Regions from separate parts of the Homo sapiens genome. Here region 2 is linked to region 1. The links come from fine-mapping of genetic effects on gene expression. A gene starts in region 1. The other region holds a variant in brackets. All regions are shown on one strand. Distances are from middle to middle.

Region 1 (2,898 bases):
TGCAGTAGGTGAAAGACGGTAAGTGGCCATTTCTATTAGCATTAAATAGTCACTGATGTGGTTTCATCAGGATTCACAATACATGTGTGGCTCCCAAATTGAGTTTCAAAGTCTTGGGTTCATGGTGTCCCCTGCCCAGCAAAATAAAGTGCAAATCTTACGGAGCAACACATTTTAAGTTCAGGCCTCAAGTACTTCCAGAGACAAAAGTCCTGGGGACACTGGCTCAGAATGGGGGAAAGGGGACCCTGGGCCAAGAGTCAACCAGGATGACATGCAGAATCAGACCTGCAAGGGCTGCAGATACTGTAGTTATGAGGCACACCCAACGCTTAAAGATAAATATGTGGTTGGAAGTATAAGAGCCTATTAAAACTGCTAGAATATAAGAAATCAAATAGGACAAAAACAGAATCATTGGCAGGGTGCAGTGGCTCACGCCTGTAATCCCAGCACTTTGGGACGCCGAGGGAGGCGGGTGGATCACTTGAGGTCAGCAGTTCAAGACCAGCCTGGCCAACATGGTGAAACCCCGTCTCTACTAAAAATACAAAAAAATGAGCCGGGCGTTAATAGCGCGTGTCTGTAGTCCCAGCTACTCAGGAGGCTGAGGCAGGAGAATCGCTTGGACCCAGGAGGCGAAGGTTGCAGTGAGCCGAGATCGCGCCATCACACTCCAGCCTGGGCGACAAGAGCGAAACACCGTCTCAAAAAAAAAAAAATCGGTGCAATTAATAACCCAGTGGATGGGTTAAACAGATTGCACGTAGCTGAAAAGTAACCGAAAATCTGGACTGGCGCGGTGGCTCACGCCTGTCATCCCAGCACTCTGGGAGGTCGAGGCGGGCGGATCACTTGAGATCAGAAATTTGAGACCAGCCTGGCCAACATGGCGAAACCCCGTCTCTACTAAAAATACAAAATTAGCTGGTCTGTAATCCCAGCTACTCCGGAGGCTGAGGGAGAAGAATCACTTGAACCCAGAAGGCGGAGCTTGCAGTGAGCCAGGATCGCGCCACCGCACTCCAGCCTGGGCGACAGAGCAAGACTCCATCTCAAAAAAAAAAAAAAAAAAGAAAATCTGAAGCAGTCAGTGCAGTAGGGAGAAGTGGGCGAAAGGAAGGAGGCCACGCTGCTGGGTTTCAGGATGAGATGGGCGTTGAGGGTGCATTCACAGAATCCCGGGAGGAGCCAGCTGAGCGGGGAAGGCATCAGGAGAGGGGAGGCACTGAGCGGGGCGCGGTGCTGTAGGGAACGGAGGCTCATCAGGGCGGCCGGGATTGAGGCGCAGGCGCTGAGCCTTCACCTAAGTCCGCCGAAGTGTGCAGAGCCTGGAGACGGGATCGAGGTCACCGGAAGCCCACGGTTGCGGGGACATGATCAAGCTACAGCGCGCTGGGGGAAGCGACCACTGCCGCCCCGCGGATCCCACCGGCCTGGCCGGGAGCTCCCTCTGCCCGGCTCACCCGCGCTTCCGGCCCGAAGCCCGGCTTCCTCTGACGTCACGGCCCCTGCGCCCCCTGGCGGCGCGGCTGCGGCGGGACGCGCGGGCACCGCCCCCTCCGGCTGGAGGGCGGGACTTCCGGTGAGTGAGTGACGGGCGCAGCCTCGGCAGCGGCGGCGGCGGAGCCCTGAGGCGACAGCAGCTGCGGGAGGCGACGGGCTGCGGCCTGCGGAACCTGAGGCAGCTGGGGAGGGCCGGGCGCGCCGGCCGGATAGCGAGCCGCGCTGGCGGCGGCGGTGGCCGCGATGATGGAGATCCAGATGGACGAGGGCGGCGGCGTGGTGGTGTACCAGGACGACTACTGCTCCGGCTCGGTGATGTCGGAGCGGGTGTCGGGCCTGGCGGGCTCCATCTACCGCGAGTTCGAGCGCCTCATCCACTGCTACGACGAGGAGGTGGTCAAGGAGCTCATGCCGCTGGTGGTGAACGTGCTGGAGAACCTAGACTCGGTGCTCAGCGAGAACCAGGAGCACGAGGTGGAGCTGGAGCTGCTGCGCGAGGACAACGAGCAGCTGCTCACCCAGTACGAGCGTGAGAAGGCGCTGCGCAGGCAGGCGGAGGAGGTGCGTGGGCCGCGGGACCCGCCCGCATCCCCGTCCCGGACCCCCAGCCAGCCCCGGGCCCCGGACCCAACACCCGTCCCGACCCCAGACCCCGCTCCGGCACCCCGGACCGCGGGACCCCTGGACCCCCAGACCCCGCCCCGAGACCCGCCTGGACCCCATATCCCCCGCCCCGGGACTTCCCCACCCCCTCTGCCCGCCGTGAGACACCTCCCTAGAGCACTCCCCCGCCTGCCCCGGGACCCCACCCCGACTCCCGGGGACCCCCTTTTCCGCCCAGGCCTGGGCCCTGGCCCCCTCCTCCGTGCCCCCAGCCCTGAATCTTCAGCCCCAAACCCGATGTGCCTGGCGTCATCCCCGGGGAGCTCAGCTTCAAAGCCAGGCCTCACTCTCCCCTCCCCACCCACCTCTGCATGACAATTGCCTTTGCTTTCGTGCGTGTGTTCAGTCAAAACCGTTTCCCGACCCCAAGTGCTACCTCTGTTGGCTGCCATTCTAAACCCATCTAGAAAAGGAATCTTTTGGTGTTCTTAGGGGGCTGCAGCCGTCTGTGGATGATGTTGGAGACCTTTCCCTTGTCCCTAATCCCGTATTTTGAAGGTCTGTGACACGGGTGAATTGGGTGGTTGATGTAAACACAGAACAAGGCCGCAGGCGGGCTGCTCCTCTGTCAGCAGAAGGAACACTCGAGTTTCTGGAGGTGATGTCTTTGCCCCCTTGGTTCCTTGCTTGGCGAGATTGTTAGCTGATGTAGCCAGGGCTGAGAAACTCCACTCTGGCTTCTGAGGAGTTAACAGTCTGAGTTTGAAGCGTTTAATTCTGTGCTAGGAT
Region 2 (2,898 bases), 26 kb after region 1:
TAGCTGGGTGTGGTGGCACATGCCTGTAGTCCCAGCTACTAGAGAGGCTGAGGCAGGAGAATTGCTTGAGCTTGGGAGGCGGAGACTGCAGTGAGCTGAGATCACGCCACAGCACTCCAGCCTGGGCGACAGAGAGTCCATCTCAAAAATAAATACATAAATAAATAATAAATCATAAAAATAACAAAATTAGCCAGTGTGATGGTGCATGCCTGTGGTCCCAGCTACTCTGGAGGCTGAGGCAGGAGAATCACCTGAACCCCAGGGGCGGAGGTGGCAGCGAGCCAAGATTGCGCACTGCACTCCAGCCTGGGTGGTAGAGTGAGAGCCTGTCTCAAAAAAGAAAGAAAGGGAATCAGTACTCAGAGCACTTAACAGTCCTTTGCAGACAGGCACACATTAGGGAGAAACGGGAGTCCCTGTGCTGGCTCCCCACAGAGGTGGGACAAGGCGATGCTCTGCCCTCCTCTTCACCTCCTACCCAGATGCCCGGAGAGGAGACAGGAGGGCCAGGCAGTGTCACGTGTCACGCATGAGGCCAGTTCTAGGGTTAGTTCCAGGGGCTCCAAGCCCAGCTGTGGCACCTGTTAGTGGGGTGGCTAGTCACCCTATATTTCCAACTTCCTTTAAAATAAAGGAAATAGAACTGACCAGGATGCATTGCTTTGAGGATTTCCTGTTAGTAGGGTGGCCAGCCACCCTATATTTCCAACCTCCTTTTCGTTTTTGTAAAATAAAGGAAGTAGAACTGACCGGAATGCATGGCTTTGAGGATTTGAGATCACAATCTTATACGCGTACCTGCATGTGTACATATTTTTCCCCTAGGGGCAATGGTTTAGTGTTTGAGGGACTTTCTAGAACATACTGCCTCAAATACTGTGTGGATGAGCCCAGGAGCCTTGGCCAGCCCTGCACTGAGTCTTATTCCTTCCACAGGGTGGGGGTACCGGTGGGTTTCCAGGGCTCGGTGCTGGTTTTCCTCAGAGAGTCGGGGGAGCCTGCCTAGAATGGGTTCCTCTCCGTTTTCTGTGCCCTTTGAATCAGGAGAAAGCCGGGCTGCAGGCCCCAGGGAGCAGAGCATCAGAGATCTTGCCAGGGTATTGCAGCTCCAGGGGACCGGCCATGGGAGACCAGAGACGCGACCTGGGCTGGGGAGGTTGGCGCTCTCGTTCTGAGTCTCCAGCAGCGGGGAGGAAGGGCCTGAAGTCAGAAGCTGCCGTCCTACAGAGCTGGGGCAGCTGGAAGGGGGGAAGCCTGTTTCTGCCCCCAAGCCTCCCACAGCCAGGGCTGCGATGGCAAAAGCCTCCCTCACACCCCATCAAGGCCTGGCCAGCTGCGAAAGCTGCATCGTGCCTGCCTGTTCTGGGGGTTACACCTGCAAACGAGAAGGGTCAGAACGTCCAGCTCTGGGCTTCATGGGTCACGTTCTGGATGATACAGAAGAAGCTGTCAGACTCTGCTTCCGAGTCTCTGGACGTGAGAGCAAATGCACGGTGTGCGCAAAGGCCCAGCTGGCCAGGGGCGTGCCGTGGAGCCTGCAGCAGCAGGTCCTCAGGCAGTCTCGCTGCTCTCAGCTGGAGCAGGGACCTGCAGTTCTCAGGGACTTGCCCTGAGAACGGGCGGCGCCGGCCATCTGCCCACCCAGAGCACCATGAGAACTACGCCAGGGCGTGTGGATGCCAGCTTGCCCCGAGAACAGGTGGTGCCAGCCATCCGCCCACCTGGAGCACCATGAGAACTACGCCAGGGCGTGTGGATGCC[A/T]GCTTGCCCCGAGAACGGGTGGTGCCAGCCATCCGCCCACCTGGAGCACCATGAGAACTACGCCAGGGCGTGTGGATGCCAGCTTGCCCCAAGAATGGGCAGCGCCAGCCATCCGCCCACCTGGAGCACCATGAGAACTACACCGGGGCGTGTGGATGCCAGCTTGGCAAGCTGTGAAAGCCTTGCAGGTGTTTCCATCAGATCCCACAGTGGGAGATTCTCATTCGCAGCTCCCGTCTCGTGGCATGCACGCTGGGACATCCTCACCTCTGGCTCTCGGCAGTTGGAAGAGGATTCCAAGCTAACTGGAATTAAAATCGAACCTGGACCCGGGATCTTTGTGTTGTTTTTCAGGGGAGCTGGGGGCAGAGGCAGGCAGTTTGGCCATCCCCTGGGAGCTGCAGCATTCCAGAACCTTCAGCTGCCTCCTTGCCAGCGCAGCCTCAGACAGGAGTGCCTCTGAGGCTGTGTCGGAGGGCGCCTGGGCAGGAGGAGCCCAGCAACAGTGTGCCCAGCTCATCCCAGATCCCAGAGGTGTGACGTGTGAACTCAGGACGCCGGCCGAGAGCCCAGGTTCCGAGTTGCAGTGATCCCCACCCCAGGCCCACAGACAACACCCGAGAGGTCCTGAGAGCCCCAGGGCCATGTGAGCTCAGCCAAGAGCAGAGGCTGCCCCAGCTCCAGAGCCGCCTGATGCTGCCGTCGTCATGGGCCAGGCCAGGCCTACCTGGAAGAGGCGCGTGGCTGCGGGGCAAGGAGTACTTCGTCCTGCATGTTTCTCTCATGGTGTGGGGCAGAAGGTGGCCCAGGAACCTGCTGTCGAGGTGTCCCCGCGGGACCCAGGGACCTGAGCTGAGTCTGGGCTGGGCGCCGCCCCCGTCCCTTGGCTCGTCCTGGCGCCGAGAGTTCAGTGGGAAGCCCCATGGTGGTGCACCTCGTCCTTGTCAGGGCCCCACTGCTGGGGTCCCCTCTGCAGCTCTGCCACGGCTCCTGAAGGCTATGTCAGGGCTGCTGCACTCCCCTCAGGGAACCAGACGGTGCCCTCTGGAAGAAGCCCCTCGATCATTTTGTAAGGGATGGATCTGGGGTGCTCTCTTGTCAGCGCTGCCACAACCAGGTCCTTCTGCCTGACCT

Evidence for each region.
Region 2: its variant is fine-mapped to the expression of MAPK8IP3 in sun-exposed skin (GTEx, PIP above 0.99). The same link has a PIP of 0.9 or more in unexposed skin.

The regions. Positions count from the first base shown.
Region 1 is chr16:1,704,591-1,707,488 of GRCh38, forward strand. MAPK8IP3 (mitogen-activated protein kinase 8 interacting protein 3) reads left to right here and starts at 1,605. Exons shown (of 32, transcript NM_001318852.2): 1 at 1,605-2,067. The coding sequence starts at 1,750. RefSeq lists silencers at 158-452, 1,359-1,698, 1,969-2,078, 2,099-2,148 and an enhancer at 936-1,800.
Region 2 is chr16:1,730,992-1,733,889 of GRCh38, forward strand. The region is part of intron 4 of MAPK8IP3 (mitogen-activated protein kinase 8 interacting protein 3); the gene reads left to right. Among named protein-coding and RNA genes, the nearest start is that of MIR3177, 2.5 kb to the right of the region's middle. The variant A/T (reference allele first, on the strand shown) is at 1,765.